2 separate regions of the Homo sapiens genome follow, and region 2 is linked to region 1. The links come from fine-mapping of genetic effects on gene expression. A gene starts in region 1. The other region holds a variant in brackets. All regions are shown on one strand. Distances are between the middles of the regions.

Region 1 (8,219 bases):
AAAACAAAAAACAAAAACAGGCAAACTGAGCAGCAGATTTTTGGTTTTTTTTTTTTTCTGAGACAGAGTCTCACTCTGTCACCCAGGCTGGAGTGCAATGACACCATCTCGGCTCACTGTGACCTCTGCCTCCCCCGTTCAAGCGATTCTCCTGCCTCAGCCTCCCAAGTAGCTGGAATTACAGGTGCCTGCCACCATGCCCAGCTAATTTTTGGATTTTTAGTAGAGACAGGGTTTCATCATGTTGACCAGGCTGGTCTCGAACTCCTGACCTCAGGTGATCCGCCTGCCTCAGCTTCCCAAAGGGCTGGGATTACAAGCGTGAGCCACCGTGCCCAGCCAGCAGCAGATGTTCATGTGTGGACGACGACTGCATCTCTGGGAAACAGCAATGGGGTCTCAGTGCTCATCCCTGCCCCGGGGAGGGCAAAGCCACCCCTTGGAGACAGGAGTTAGGGCTGCGGAGGCTCCTGCTTTTCATCACACACCTGTCAATCACACCTAGATTTCCAAGTGAGTGCTGGCAATCGCTAGCTTTGTGAACTTGGGCAATTAAGTGACTTCTCTCTACTTGCCTAGATGTTCAAATCTGTCATATGTGGGACAATGACAGACACCTCCCAAGGCTGCCTGAGTCAATGAGATAACTCAGGCAGAGACCCACGGCAGCGTGAAACCCGTGGGAAGCAAATGTCCAGTTGACAGCAATTATCCTAGTAACTCTGTTTTCAACCATCTCCACCTTTTATAAAACAGCTTCAAACCACCTCTACTCAAGGACAGATCTAAAGCACCAGATCTAGAATTAAACAGAATTATACACACGGCTCCTTCAACAGGTCACCCCAGGCCTGACCTTCAGACCAGGCCTTTCATGCCTTTTCCTGTCTGCAGCAAAGTGCGGTGTGGTTAATCTCCAAGGCCGTCGCAACCCTAAACGGTTACCTCCAAGCGAGCAGGACGCATACTTACTCGCGTTTTTTCTTACGGTGAAACCCTTAATTCCAAAGCATGTAATTGCTACAAAACATAACAGAATCATTCCTTCCACCTATCTGGAACTTACTAGAACGAAAATGTGAGCTTCGTACACAAGCAAACGCCCCAGAGCCAACTGAGGCAGGGTAAGGGCAGAGGCGGGGGCACTTGGGATGGGGGTTTGGGCTGAAAACCTGACCTACCTAAGGGCACGGTGACGATGACATGGTGCGCCGGGAACCGGTCTCCATCCTCACACTCTACCGACACTGGAAAGGTCTCCCCGGGAAAGGCTGCCTCCTGGAAGGACCCGTTCCAGTGGATGGTCTTCACAGGCTTCTCAAAAACTACAGTGTCCTCCGGCAGGGCGGCCATCATGCAGTTTGTGAGTCCTTGATAGCCCCTAGAAAGACGGAAGTGCTGGTTTCGTAGAGGCCCAGTCCCTGGAAGGGCAGGACTGGTGGAAATACGTGCTCTGAGTTCCCACCCGCATCAAAGGTAGCTGCGGGGAGCTCTCCATCGCTCAGGGCCAGCAAGGAGGTCAGCTCCACTCTGTGGTTTTCCACCTCAAGGATGCTCATACCTGCCCTCCAGGCTGTAAGGGAGGGTTCAGTGGGCACAGAGCACTCAAGGCAATCTGCCGGAACCAGGGCTTCCTCCTTACCACCACAGAGTTCCTGACTCACAAATGCCCATTGCCTGGCCAGGAGCCTTGGGGCCAACACCAGGGGTGACGGGACAGCCCGAGGAGGGTCTCATCTGCACCTGGTACCTGGCAGCCACCCTGCCACAGGGAGAGGGCCTGTCTGGCCCCCTCTGCAGTTGAAGCCCCTCATAAATACAGGAGCAAGAGAAGTCTTTACTCTTCTTCTTTTTTTCTCTTTTGAGATGGAGTCTCACTCTGTCGCCCAGGTTGGAGTGCAATGGCGCAGTCTTGGCTCACTGCAACCTCCGCCTCCCAGGTTCAAGCAATTCTCCTGCCTCAGCCTCCCGAGTAGCTGGGATTACAGGCATGCACCATCACGCCCGGCTAATTTTTGTATTTTTAGTAGAGATGGGATTTCACCATGTTGGCCAGGCTGTTCTTGAACTCCTGACCTCATGATCCACCTGCCTCAGCCTCCCAAAGTGCTGGGATTACAGGCGTGAGCCACCGCACTCAGCCTTACCTTTCCTTCTTTTAAACACTCTCTCTCAGAAATAACTTTTTTGGCTTAAATGAGCAAAACTAGGGAAAGGAGCAACCAGTCTGTCGGAATGGGGAGGACAAATGGTCTCCTGTCCCTCCCATACCCAAGCAAGAGCGGAGCTCAGCCAGCCCCGGTGCCCTGGGGAGCCTGGTGGGAGGACTGGCGGGGCAGGGGCTCAGGCACGCACTTAGAAAAGGTGCAGTCCAGCCCCGGCAGCACGGTATACTCCCCAAAGGGTGCCAGGGCCACCAGGTCCATGCTGTGGGTGCCGCTCACACAGCATTCCAGGTTGAAGAAGGAGTTCAGGACGGCCAGCTTCAGCTTCCTGGTCTCCTCATCCTCTGTCCAGCCGGCCACGTGCTGGCCAATCTCCTTCTTGAGGTACTCCCCGACGCTGGGCACCGGGGTCTCTGCAGCGTGCAGGAACTCCCGGGTCTGGTCTATCAGGCCGTAGAACAGAGTCGCCATCTCCGCCACCAGCTGGAGGCTCACGCTGGCCCCGGAGCTGGCGTAGCTCACGGAGGGCAGGCCCACGTGACCCCCGGTCTCCACCAGCTGGTTCTCCTGGGACAGCTCCTTCTCCCCCAGCAGCCCGTACTCAGCAGCCAGCTGGAAGACGGGGTTACCCCGGGAGGGCCCATGGATCCAGTGCGCGCCCACCTCCACCACGCCACCTGCGAGGGGACAGCAGATGCCACCTGGAGGTCCCTTTCCTAGAAGGGTCACCCCGAGCCCTTCTCCTGGGCCACGCCCACGCTGGCCTTCCCAAGGAGGATGTACCACACTGTCCCCAAGGGCCCTGTGGTCCCCCAGGGCAGGGCCCTGTCAGACCCAGTTTAAGGGGAGCACCTGGGCAGGAGGGCACTTGTCGGGCGGTGTGGACCAGAGGGAGGGGCGCAGGGTGGGCGTACCCCGGGGCTGGGGGGGCCCCCGTGGGGCAGAATCAGGGCGGCCTTGTGGAGCCGTAGGTCGCCTTCCCTGGCCGGCGCCCTCCTGACTAACTCTGAGCCCTGAGTTTCGGGGCGGTGAACTCTGGCGGATTAAGCGAGCGGGGATTCCCTCGGGGAGCCCGGTGAGGCGGCCGGGCAGGTCGGCTGCGCGCAGGGCAGGTTGGGGCCGGCGAGTTCGGGCGCAGCCGGTTGGGTTCCGGGAGGGGCTCCGGGAGGGGCGGTTACCGAAGCAGCGCTCCGAGCGGATGCGGCCCCCGGCGCGGGCCGTGGCCTCCAGGACCCGCAGGTGCGGGAAGGCGGAGTGGCCGCAGAGCCTCTGCGCCGCGCCCAGCCCCGCGATGCCGCCGCCCACCACCAGCACCCGGGGTCCGCCCGGGGCCTCCCCGACGCTGCCGGTCGACTCCATCGCGCGGTCCGGGCAGTCCGAGGGCTTCTGAGTAGCCGGGAGGTCTGGAGCTCTCGGAGGAGGCCGGAGGCGGAGCGAGGGGGCGGGGAGGCGCTGGGAGGGGCGGGGAGGGGCGGGGAGGCGCGGGGAGGCGCGGGGAGGGGCGGGGAGGGGCGGGGAGGGGCGGGGAGGCGCGGGGAGGGGCGGGGAGGCGCGGGGAGGGGCGGGGAGGCGCGGGGAGGCGCGGGGAGGCGCGGGGAGGCGCGGGGAGGGGCGGGGAGGGGCGGGGAGGGGCGGGGAAGGGGCCGGGCCGAGCCCCACAGTGCGCCTCGGCCTCCGCGAGCCTCCGGACTGGGCTCGGGTCTCAGAGGGAAGCGCCCCGCGTGGGAGGGCCCGCGAGGACAGGCGTCAGGGAGCGTCCCGCGCTGCCGGGCGGTGCGCGCGAGCGTCCCCATGGAGGGAGAAGCCGGCCGGCCGGGCGGGCCAGTGTCTCCTCCAAGGGAGACGAGGGCGCAGCGAGCGCTTCCCCCAGGGACCCGCGTCGAGTGCGAGGGCGCAGTGGGTCTGGGGGTGCCACGGTGTCAGGGGTGGGACCTGGGAGAGCTTAACGCGTCCGGAGGGGGGCTGTGAAAGCCTCCAGCATCGCCAGCGAGCCGTCAGTTCGCGTGTGCGCGCGCCTGCGTGTGCGCGTGTAGTCACAGGGCTGCAGGGACACAGGACCAAAGTACAAAGTACACTCGCAAAGTACAAAGTTCAGAAGCCGAGGGCAAGTGCAGAAACGTCCCTCGCCCGGGAAGTTGAGCGCACACCCAGGCACGCCTGTGTTTCTGGAGAATCCCCGGTGCAGGCGGCCGAGTTTTCTGCTGCATCGCAGCCCGCGGGGGTTGGAAAGGCTCCCGCCCTGTTTTCAGGCGCGTCCCCGCCTCCTGAGCCCCGGTCCTCTGCCGAGGGGCCGCGCGCTCCAGTTTGCCAGCGTGAGCTTCACTCTTCGCTCTCGGCGTGGGCCTCCTGAGCCGTGTCTTACTTTCCTTTGATTCCCTCTCGTCCCAGCTGGAGAAAAGGCTCCCGGAAGGGTGACCTGGTGTCGCTGGATTCCACTCCCCATCACTCCCTAGCCAACCCCGCGAGCTGAGCTCCAGGCAGGGAGAGGGGCGGGTGCCTGGGAGTCGGGCTGACTCCCTGGGCGGTGGCGGGCAGGGGTCGAGCGTCCTCTGTCCGTCAGGGGCCCGCAGCACCAGGAGGCGACGCTGGATGCAGTGGCCATCTCCTCCTGCCTCCAGGCCATGGGGAACCCAGGGCGGATCCCGGGTCAGCAGGGCCAGCTGTCCACCAAGCTGACCCACCCGACATGCCAGGACTAAGGAAAGAAGGGCTGCCCCACACCCTTAGTCGGATGGCAAGTGTTTGGGGTGCAGCCCCCGCCACGAGTGTCACCTGTTCTGCCTGAGCAGGCTTCTCTCTTACTCCCTGCTCTTGGGCCTGAAGCAGAGCCGCTGGCTCAGTGGGGCGCTCCATTCTGAGGTCCCTGGCATGCACCACGGAAGCCCAGCGGGACCACCCACCCACCTGCCCCAGCTCCCCAGCGGAGGTCCTGAGATGGCAGATTAAATACTCTGGGGTTCTGAATTCCACAGATGAACTGGGTCCCCCACGGGTATGGCCAAGGGAACGGCCCACTCCCTAGTGGCTCCGTGTGAAATCGAGCTGCTGCTGCTCTCGCCGCAGGGCCCAGCTCACTGCCCAGACATAGGAGCACATCGCCCTGCGCACAGGCTGGGTGGGCACAGCTGTGAGGGAGGCCACCCCATGCCTCAGGCCTCCTGCACAGGCGTGGGCCTCGCCACTCTGGGTGGACAGGCTACTTTGGCCCCTCAGCCTCTGGGGACTGCTGCCCTGTTTTCAGCACCGTGTCAGGCACCATCTGGTCAGCCAGCTCCTCCAGCCCCGAGACTCCCGTGTCCTCATTCTCCTGGGCCGTTACGGTCGGCCAGTGCCCAGCCTTTGCTGGAAGGCTGTCCAGGCTGGGCTCTGGTCAGGCATCGATGTCCCCCAGGCACCTGGCCTCACCTCGCGTTGGGACAGCCTCTGCAAGATGGAACAGGAAGGGTCTGGCTTTGCCTCTGTCACCTTCTCCCGGTCCATCATGTCCTCCTGGCCAGCCCGTTCCTGGTTCCTGCGGGGAGCCCAGCCCGAAGGGGAACCGAAAGATTCTAACTTAACTCTAGTTCAGCCTCCCGGATCCTCCTGTGGAGCGGCAGGATCCCATAAAAGATACTTGGCTCAGCAACTTGCTGGCCAAGCCTCCCCACAGCGGTCCACACAGGCCAGAGGTAAACATGCCCATGCCCCACACCTGGAAGGCCTGGTGCAAGGAGGGGTGATTGTAGTGACTGAAATGGGAACTCTGGCTTTATGGCGCGGAGAGAGAAGACATGGACCCAAGAGCTGCAGGGTGGGGACAACCGACGCGCTCTTTGTCCCCTGGATGTGGTGCCACAGCCTGAATCCAATAGCACGGGCCGCTGACGCGCTGACCTGGGGCTGGGTTAGTCGCTCGTCCCCCTTGCTCTGAAATGGAGAGTGCACGTGACCACGGCCAGTCCTGGACAATCCTGCCATGCCAGAGCCACCAGCTGGAACACACGGACACAACCTCTTTTCCATCTGACTGGTACAAGGTATGTGCTTCTCCTAGCTCCAGAGGGCCTTGGGTGATGCCACCTATGGTGATCAAGGTGGCAACTACCCATGTGGCTTTGACTGAATCAGGCTTGTTCATTTTTTAAAATAGCTTTATTGATATAGACATCATGCTGTAAGACTTCTCCCGTTTAAAGTGTTCAATTCAATGGTGTTCAGTTTAGTTACAGAGTTGTGCCACTGTCACCATCATCCAGTTTAGAACTTTTTTGTTTTGTTTTGTTTTTTTGAGATGGAGTCTTGCTCTGTTGCCCAGGCTGGAGTGCAGTGACACTACCTTGGCTCACTGCAACCTCTGCCTTCCAAGTTCAAGCAATTCTCCTGCCTCAGCCTCCTGAGTAGCTGGGATTATAGGCATGTGCCACTACGCCCGGCTAATTTTTGTATTTTTAGTAGAGACGGAGTTTCACCATGTTGGACCAGGCTGGTCTCGAACACCTGACCTCAGGTGATCCACCTGCCTTGGCCTCCCAAAGTGCTGGGATTACAGGCGTGAACCACTGCGCCTGGCCCCAAGTTTAGGACATTTTCATCACCCTAAAAAGCAAATGGGGATGCCCCTCAGCAGTCCCCCCCATTACCCCTCCCTCCAGCCCCTGGTGACCGCTAATCTAGTTTCTGTCTCTGTGGATTTGCCTGTTCTGTACATTTCATAGAAATGGAACCTATTCAATGCACGGCCTTTGTGTCTGGCTTTTTTTACTGAGCATAACATTTCCAAGGCTTGTCCATTTTGTAATGTGTATCAGCGCTTCTTTCTTTTTTACTCCTGAATAGAGTCCATTGTATAGTCTAATACATTCTAATGTATCCATTGTTTGGATATATGACATTTTGTTTATCCATTCATGAGTTGATGGACAATTGGCTTTTTCCCTCTTTTTGGCTATTATGAATAATGTTGCTATGAACGTTCATGTCTAAGTTTTTGTGGACATTTGTCTTCATTTCTCTGAGGTGTACACCTAAGAGTGGAGTTGCTGTTTGACCTTTTGAGGAAACAACAGACTGTTTTCCAAAGTGACTGCACCATTTTCCATTCCCGCTGGCAGTGTACCAGCGTTCCCCGCTCACGTCCCCCACAACCCGCTGTGACTGTTGGGCTTTTTATTGCAGCCAGCACAGTAGGTGTGACGTCGTATCACTGAGGGGTCAGTTTGCATTTCCCTAATGATTCGTGATGCTGAGCTTATCTGACACTGATTATCTTCATTGGAGGAATGTCTGTTCAGTCCTCTCACTATCTTGGTAGTGTCCTTTCAGACATAAAAGTTTTAAATTTTGGTGAAATCCAATTTACATATGTTCTCCCTTTGTTGCTTGTGCTTTTGTGGCTACATTACTTGATGGAGGACGGGAGCTGCCCGGCCTCCTGGGTCGTTAGAAAGGAAACCTCTTGGCGGACACGGTGGTCCACTCCTGTAATTCCAGCACTTTGCGAGGCCGAGACCGGTGGATCACTTGAGGTCAGGAGTTCGAGAACAGCCTGGCCAACATGGCAAAACTCCCGACTCTACTAAAAAACTACAAATATTAGCCGGGCATGGTGGTAAGCACCCGTAGTTCCAGCTACTCAGGAGGCTGAGGCAGGAGAATCGCTTGAACCCGGGAGGCGCAAGCTATGATGAGCCGGGATGACACCACTGCACTCCAGCCTGGGTGACAGCGAGACAAGAAAGAAAGGAAAGAAGAGAAGGTGAAGGAGAAGGAAGGAAGGAAATAAACCTCTTTTCTGTCTGAGCCATTTCATTTTGGGCCTGTCTGTCCCAGAGGTTTAACTACACTAGTATAGAGCATCGTTTACTAAAGGTTTGTTGAGGTTTGTTGTTGATTTGTTTCTACTTACACGAGATGTCTTCATTTTTACCCTCGGTCTTGAAATAAAATTTTGGTGCATGTTCATTTTTGGTTTGAATTGAATTATTTTCTTGAACATAGTGAGGCAGGAGAACAGGGTCTGGAGGCCAATTCATGCTGACTCCCTAGAACTAAATCAAATGGAAACACTTCCGCTAT
Region 2 (8,391 bases), 91 kb after region 1:
GGACACGGAGGGACACGGGGGACACGGAGTGTGCATGCTGCCCTCTCCCGTACAGGTAGGGCTCCCCGGGACACGGGGACATGGGGGACACGGAGGGACACGGGGGACACGGAGTGTGCATGCTGCCCTCTCCCGTACAGGTAGGGCTCCCCGGGACACGGGGACATGGGGGACATGGGGGACACGGAGGGACACGGAGGGACACGGAGGGACACGGGGGACACGGAGGGACATGGGGGACACGGAGGGACACGGAGGGACACAGAGGGACATGGGGGACACGGAGGGTGCGTGCTGCCCTCTCCCGTACAGGTAGGGCTCCCCGGGACACGGGGACACGGAGGGACACGGAGGGACATGGGGGACACGGAGGGACATGGGGGACACGGACGGTGCATGCTGCCCTCTCCCGTACAGGTAGGGCTCCCCGGGACACAGGGACACGGAGGGACATGGGGGACACGGAGGGACATGGGGGACACGGAGGGCGCGTGCTGCCCTCTCCCGTACAGGTAGGGCTCCCCGGGACACGGGGACACGGAGGGACACGGGGACACGGAGGGACATGGGGGACACGGACGGTGCATGCTGCCCTCTCCCGTACAGGTAGGGCTCCCCGGGACACGGGGACACGGAGGGACACGGGGACACGGAGGGACATGGGGGACACGGACGGTGCATGCTGCCCTCTCCCGTACAGGTAGGGCTCCCCGGGACACGGGGACACGGAGGGACACGGGGACACGGAGGGACATGGGGGACACGGACGGTGCATGCTGCCCTCTCCCGTACAGGTAGGGCTCCCCGGGACACGGGGACACGGAGGGACACGGGGACACGGAGGGACATGGGGGACACGGACGGTGCATGCTGCCCTCTCCCGTACAGGTAGGGCTCCCCGGGACACGGGGACACGGAGGGACACGGGGACACGGAGGGACATGGGGGACACGGACGGTGCATGCTGCCCTCTCCCGTACAGGTAGGGCTCCCCGGGACACAGGGACACGGAGGGACATGGGGGACACGGAGGGACATGGGGGACACGGAGGGCGCGTGCTGCCCTCTCTGGGGGCTCTGGCCTTCCTTTGCTTGTGGTCTCAGGAAAGCACACCCCGGGCAGATGTCCGCCTGCTGCCCATGGGGCCCAGGGCAGGAATGGCCCAGCTGCTTATGGCCTTATTCTTTTGTGTGCAGGACATTAAATTGCCTCCAATTAGGTCCTTCAACCTCTTTGGTGCTTGGATTTCCTGATCTGGTGGGGTCTGTCGGCTTCTCTTCAGTGCGATATATTTAAATGGATAAAAATATGTTAGTTCCCAAAGAATTGTATTATGTCTATTACGTCAAGATACCGTTGTTGAAATATTTTCAAAAAATACATTAGTGATGTGGAAATGTTATTTCTTTACTAATGGACCAAATAAAATCTGGTATAATGGGCACCTTTAAAGAAAGCACCTTCACACTTGAAGTGCGTAAATGATGTTTGAAGTTGTTCAGATGATGACGTGGAGATGTCTGGTTTCTGTCAATGTTGGCCCCGCCTACCCCACACGAGCATCATTTTGGGTGTCAGGGCCCCACGCACCCCACACGAGCATCATTTTGTTGCCTGGGCTCATCATGGAAGGAAATGCTAAATTCCAAAAAGAGGTGGGTGCAGATAAAGACAAATCAGTTTCCCACCTATCTCTGCGGACCGTACATTCTCCCTGAGCCCAGGTTAAATACTCCGTTCCAGAGCGAGGTTTGTAGGTTTGTTGGTTTTCTTTTTTTTTTTTTTCTTTTTTTTTTTGAGGCAGAGTCTCGCTCCATTGCCAGGCTGGAGTGCAGTGGCATGATCTCGGCTCGCTGCAACCCCCACCTCCCAGGTTCAAGCGATTCCCCTGCCTTAACCTCCCAAGTAGCTGGGACTACAGGTGCACACCACCACGCCCAGCTGATTTTTTGTATTTTAGTAGAGACGGGGTTTCACTGTGTTGGCCAGGATGGTCTTGATCTCTTGACTTCGTGATCTGCCCACCTCAGCCTCCCAAAGTGCTGGGGTTACAGGCGTGAGCCACTGTGCCCGGCCCCTAGGTTCGTTTTAGCCGAGAAGTGTTGGGGTTACAGGCGTGAGCCACCGTGCCCGGCCCCTAGGTTCGTTTTAGCCCACAGTTGAGAAGTAACTGGTAGATTAGGCTCGGCCCTTGTGGAACGTTACTTGGAAGTGTGCTGGCCTCTGTTAATGTCCCTGCGCGCTGCCGGCCTGGAGAAGTGTCGCCTGCCTCAGGCGCCCTTGCTTTGCCTGTGACCGAAGCGCTCCCTGTGGTTTTAGTGAGTTTATGGTCGAGGAGCACGAGCTGCGGAAGGAGAGGATCCAGGAGGATTACAACGACAAGTACTGGGACCAGCGGTACACCATCGTCCAGCAGCAGATCCCGTCCTTCCTGCAGAAAATGGCGGACAAGATCCTCAGCACAGGTGCGGCGCAGCGGGCGGGGACTTGGGGTGCGCAGCACAGCTCTGCCTGGAGAGTCTCCTGCAGCCCAGGCCCTCCCACCGGGAGCCTGTGCCTCACCCTGTGGTTGCCCTGAGCCCTGGTGTCCGTGAATGCGGGGCTGAGGTCAGGACTGGCCCGTGGGCTGGGCTGCGGCGCTGAGTTAGGCCTTGAGATGGTCTCTGTTGCCAGGTTCCCTCAGGTTTCCATCTCCGGGACTCTGTCCCTGACCCTGCGAGGCTCTCTCACAGGTGCCTTCTCTATTTCTGTTTCTGATTTCTAAAACTCCGCTAGCATGTCAGGAAAAACCAGCAAAGACACACGCCTGGCGGCCGGCAGTGTTTCCTATCTCTGACCACACAGGTTAGGGCCTGACCTGGACCCAGGGCAGTGGCGCGGGGACTTGGACTCGGCACATCGGGGCCGTCACGAAAGGGTTGGGAAGCGATTAGCCATCCGGTTCTCATAATGCCTGTTCGAAATTATTTCTGTGCCCTTGGTTAGAAAATTCCAGATGTGCAGAGCCACGGCAAAGCCCTGCCACCACCAGCTCAGTCTGTAGCCGCTGACAGTGATTTACCGGGAAGGAGCAAGGGTGTGGAGCCGCCTCATGCAGCCCAGTTTCCATTCCACTGCCTTCTGTGTAGACAAAGACAGCTGGGGCCTCAGACTGACCGTGTGGAGAGCCCATTCAATGTCCATTCCACTGCCTCCTGTGTAGACAAAGACAGCTGGGGCCTGAGATCGACCATGTGGAGAATAAAATTTTGAATTTCTGTGTTTTCAGGAAAATATCTAAATGTGGTCAGAGAGTGTGGCCATGACGTCACCTGCCCGGTGGCTAAAGAGATCATCTACACGTTAAAAGAGCGGGCGTATGTGGAGCAGATCGAGAAGGCGTTTAACTACGCCAGCAAGGTGCTGCTGGACTTCCTGATGGAGGAGAAGGAGCTGGTGGCTCACCTCAGGTGATTCCGTGCCCTGTCCCTGTGCGGGCACTCACCTCCCTCTGAAACCGGAACCTGTGGGACGTGGGGCTGAGATCGCTGGGTTTCTTCTGGCAGCTCCGCCTTGTCTTTTTGAAAGTGGGCACTGCTGGATGGTCTCTAGCTCAAGGACCTGGCACTCACAGTGGGTGGTGTAGGCCCCCGGTCACCTTGTCCAGGGGCCCCAGCTCCCCTCCTTGCCCAGGGCCCACCAGCCCCTTCTCAGCTCCTCCTGCCACAGCTTGCGTGGTGGTTGCACAGCCCCTGCCTGAGAGCCAAGCGCTTAGCCTGTTGTAGTGTGTTTTAGGGTGATGGCTATGGCGAGCATCTGTGGGTGGGCACGTGCTCACGCCTGCTCCCTGGCCGTGGCGGGCACCTGCGGGTGGGCACGTGCTCACGCCTGCTCCCTGGCTGTGGCGGGCACCTGCGGGTGGGCACGTGCTCACGCCTGCTCCCTGGCTGTGGCGGGCACCTGCGGGTGGGCACCTGCTCACGCCTGCTCCCTGGCGCAGGTCCATCAAGCGCTACTTCCTCATGGACCAGGGCGACTTCTTCGTGCACTTCATGGACCTCGCGGAGGAGGAGCTCCGGAAGCCGGTGGAGGACATCACGCCCCCTCGCCTGGAAGCGCTCCTGGAGCTGGCGCTGCGCATGAGCACGGCCAACACTGACCCCTTCAAGGACGACCTCAAGGTGGGTGGGGGTGCCGGGGGCTGTCCCCTGTGGCAGAGGCCTCGGAGGGGCTGGGAGGAGAGCACAGCAGAGGCCAGCCCTGTCCCCCACTCCCCGTCCCGGTGAGGCGAC[C/T]GCAGGGTCTGTTTCCTTCACTTGGCTACCGGGGCCGGCTTGCCGGGATCGGGGGTCTTTGTGCCTGTGCTCTGGAGGGGCGCGGGTCTCGGGTTTTCCTGCAGTGCCCTCGTCCGGGCCTGGCTTTCAGGTCATGCTGGCCTTGTGGAATTGTTTTCACGTGTCCCTCCATCTGTCTTTTGAAAGGGTTTCAGGTCTTTTGAAAGGGTTTCAGGAGTGGTGTTAATTCTTTTTGTTTTTGCCTTTTTGTTGTCGTTGTTTTTTGTTTTTTTTTTTGAGACGGAGTTTTGCTCTTGTCACCCAGGCTGGAGTGCAGTGGCATGATCTCAGCTCACTGCAGCCTCCACCTCCTGGGTTCAAGTGATGCTCTACCTCAGCCTCCCGAGTAGCTGGGATTACAGGTGCGCGCCACCACGCCCAGCTAATTTTTGTATTTTTAGTAGAGATGGGGTTTCACCATGTTTCCCAGGCTGGTCTTGAACTCTTGACCTCAGGTGATCCACCCACCTTGGCCTCCCAAAGTGCTGGGATTACAGGCATGAGCCACCGTGCCCAGCCGTTTTTTAAAATATATATATGTTTTATCTGTTTTTTACTATTTTTAATAGAGACGGGGGTCTGTGTTGCCCAGGCTGGTTGAACCCCTGGGCTCAAGCGATCCTTCACCTGCGCCTCCCCAGGAGGGTGTTGATTCTTTGGCTGTTTGGCAGGGTTTGCCTGGGAGCTCTTGGGCCCTGGGTTTGTCTTTGTTGGAGACTTTTGAGGGGGACTTGGCCCCTTGCTGGCCACAGGTCTGCTCAGTCCCTTTCCTCTTGGTCGGCTGTCTGTCTCGCATCTTGTCTGGTGCACAGTTCATGGGTTTCTAGTATCTGCTTTTTATTTCTGTAAGATTAGTAGTTATATCCCTTCTTTTTCTGATTTTAGTAATTTGAATCTTCTTTCGTCTTAGCTGATGTAGCTAGAAATTTGTCGATTTCATTATCTTTTCAAAGAACCAACTCTTGGGTTTGTTGACTGTATTTTTCTGTTTTCTCTCTTCTGTCATCTTTGTTACTCCTGTCTGCTGCTTAGGGGTTCAGTGTGGTCTTCTTTTTTCTAGTTTCTTAATTTGAAAAGTTAGTTTACAGCTGTAAACATCCCTCCGAGTGCAGCCTTCGCTGATCCCCTAGCGTCATAATTTCTGTTTGTCTGGAGGTGTTTCTGATTCCCTCTGATTTCTTGTTGGAGCCGTGGGTGGTTTATGTTTAACTTCCACATGTTTGTGAAGTTTCTGGTTTTCCTTCTGTTGCTTGTTTCTAACTTTATCTCCTTGTTAGAGAACAGACTTTTTGTGATTTCAGTTTTGTGAAATGTATTGATTTGTGTAGTGGCCCCACATCCATCCTGGAGAGTGTTCCGTGCGCGCGGGAGGAGGATGTGCCCTCGGTTCCGTGCGCGCGGGAGGAGGACGCGCCCTCGGTGCTGTTGGGGTGGTGTTCTGCAGGTGGGTTGAGGCCGTGTCTTTCCTCACTGATCGTCTGTCCGGCGGTTCTCTCCGTGGTTAGAAGTAGGGCACCGAGTCTCCCTGTCACTGAAGAACTGCTTTTCTCCTTGTCATTCTGTCTATTCTTGATTCAGATATTTTGGGGTCTCTTGTTAGGAGCAGGAATATTTTCGTAGGAAAAATTCCTGGTAGTGAAATTGTTGGGTCACAATACATGGCCCTTGTATGACTAGGCTGACCTTGCTGGAGTTGATGGAGTCCAGTCTCAGGACGCTGCTGTCTGCACACCTGCGAAAGCTCCCACCTTGGCTATTTGATGGACAAGTGATGTCAGGGGCTCATTTCTGCGTTTGTGATGGTCACGATTTCGTCTGTCCGCTGCTTGTTTCTTCTTGCTTTATCCCCTGCCCTTCATTTCCTGTCCTGTCGTTGTGCGATGGTTTTGTAGGAACTCTGTTGCGGGTGGTTGGAACTTAGCAAATACTCGAGTGATTAACGTGAGGACAGTATTACTTGCTTATAATAACTATTATGTCCCTCGTCAAATATGCTTCATTTTTCAACCTGGGCCTGGTGCTTATCATGGTACAAAGGTTTTCGTCCTAAGGAATCACGTTTCTTTCACCGTCCTTAGCGGTTTTTCCCTTATACCACCCACAGCAGCAGTGGGTATTTACAAAGTAATTCATCTGAATTTTTGTTGTTTTGTTCTGATGGGAAGTGGTTCAGTTTTGAATTTGATTTATCAGTAGATGTTTGGGTTTTTGAAAAGCCTCTGATATTTAGAATCGGAATGTAGGGAACCTTACGTCAGCGCTGGGTCTGTGAGCGAGGATGGCGATCGGGATGCGACTTCGGGTCTTTTCCTTAAAACTGGATGCTTTGTTTCATTTCCTTCCCTCCAAGATCGACCTGATGCCCCATGACCTCATCACTCAGCTCTTGCGCGTCCTGGCCATCGAGACCAAGCAGGAGAAGGCGATGGCGCACGCCGACCCCACGGAGCTGGCGCTGAGCGGCCTGGAGGCCTTCTCTTTCGACTACATCGTCAAGTGGCCCCTTTCGCTCATCATCAACAGGTGCGGGTCGGCTGCTCGGGCACCTGCCAGATCTTCACTCAGGTTTGGCAGAAGCGAGAACTGTGCCACGCGGTGGCCACCTCGTCCCACAGAGGACCCAAGGCGGCTCTCCCCGGCCTTCAGTGTCCGAGAGATTCACGGGCTGTCCGGGGGCCACGGTGCGGACTGTGGAGTACAGACGCCGTGTCCACGACGCCGCCGGTCACGGAGGCCCACCTGAGGTGCCGCCACGTCTCTTGCAGGAAAGCCCTCACTCGCTACCAGATGCTCTTCAGGCACATGTTCTACTGCAAGCACGTGGAGCGGCAGCTCTGCAGCGTCTGGATCAGCAACAAAACCGCCAAGCAGCACTCGCTGCACTCCGCCCAGTGGTGCGTTCTTCCTCTGCCCCCGCATGCCCTCCTGAAGCAGCGCTCGCTGCACTCTGCCCAGTGGTGCAGCGCCCCCCTTGTGCCCTCCTGGTAGACAGCTTTCTAGGCTTCTGGAAGTGTCATCTGGAAGCGCACGTTGGTGGCTTTAGATCCATAATGCTTCATTGCTTCATTTTCCTGTCTTGGGGCTGCACGGCGCTGCCGTCCACCCCACAGGGGATGCTGGCTCTGTCCCTCAGCCCTCTCTGGAGCCTTGTGGTGACTGCACGGGCATGGAGACTGCCCAGGTCGGTGTGCAGGACACTAGCTCCTCCCGAGAGCGGACAGCCACATCTTGCTGGGACCAGAGGTGCTTTGCAGCCGGTCTGTGCCTCTAGGGTGTTGAAAAAAGGGGTCGATGGCAGAGCTTCATAAGAATTTGTCCAGTCGGGTGCAGTGGCTCATGCCTGTAATCTCAGCACTTTGGGAAGCTGAGGAGGGAGGATTGTTTGAGCCCACAAGTTCGAGACCCGCCTGGACAATGTAACAAGAGCTCATCTCTTAAAAAAAAAGAAAATTATTTTAATTAGCCGGGAATGCCTGTAGTTCCAGCAACTCAGGAGGCTGAGGTGGGAGGGTTGCTTGAGTCCAGGAGGTCAAGGCTGCAGTGAGCCAAGATCGTGCCACTGCACTGCAGTCTGAGCGACAGCAAGACCCTGTCTCTCGAAGAAAAAAAGAAATTAGAAGAAAAAGAACTCATCTTGATGATGAAGCACAAATATGCATCTGTTGTGTGGCACTTTCCTGGCGTGGGCTCCGAGGGGTCCGTCCACCAAGGAGCCCGCGTCCCAGTCTCCACCGTCCAGCTGGCTGGGGGTGTCCCTGCAGGGCACAGGTTGGTAGACGGTGACAGCTTGTGCTGGGCAGACGCAGGAGCAGCGGCCGTGAGTGTCTGGTGTGCTGGGAGGGGCGCTTGCTCTGCAGAGGAAATAGCCACGTCCAGAGAACGTCCTCCATGGCTGTCCTCCGTCCTCCGTGTCACTTGGTGGGCGCTGTCGGGGCCGCGTCCTCCATGGCTGTCCTCCGTCCTCCGTGTCACTCAGGTTTGCTGGGGCTTTCACTCTGCGGCAGCGAATGCTCAACTTCGTCCAGAATATTCAATACTACATGATGTTTGAAGTGATGGAACCGACCTGGCACATCCTGG

Evidence for each region. PIP is the estimated chance that this variant, and not a neighbour inherited with it, causes the effect.
Region 2: its variant is fine-mapped to the expression of PAOX in whole blood (TOPMed, PIP above 0.99).

Annotation. Positions count from the first base shown.
Region 1 is chr10:133,374,622-133,382,840 of GRCh38, reverse strand. PAOX (polyamine oxidase) reads right to left here and starts at 3,579. Exons shown (of 7, transcript NM_152911.4): 1 at 3,344-3,579; 2 at 2,356-2,842; 3 at 1,182-1,381. The coding sequence starts at 3,524. It overlaps LOC124902563 (a long non-coding RNA gene), which reads left to right and starts at 3,950. Exons shown (of 2, transcript XR_007062395.1): 1 at 3,950-6,181; 2 at 7,635-8,105. RefSeq lists silencers at 3,244-3,653, 3,754-4,013 and an enhancer at 3,987-4,486.
Region 2 is chr10:133,283,899-133,292,289 of GRCh38, reverse strand. It overlaps TUBGCP2 (tubulin gamma complex component 2), which reads left to right. Exons shown (of 18, transcript NM_006659.4): 9 at 2,321-2,466; 10 at 3,270-3,450; 11 at 3,981-4,161; 12 at 6,662-6,834; 13 at 7,077-7,205; 14 at 8,288-8,391. It overlaps LOC124902562 (a long non-coding RNA gene), which reads left to right and starts at 243. Exons shown (of 2, transcript XR_007062394.1): 1 at 243-888; 2 at 983-1,457. The variant C/T (reference allele first, on the strand shown) is at 4,273.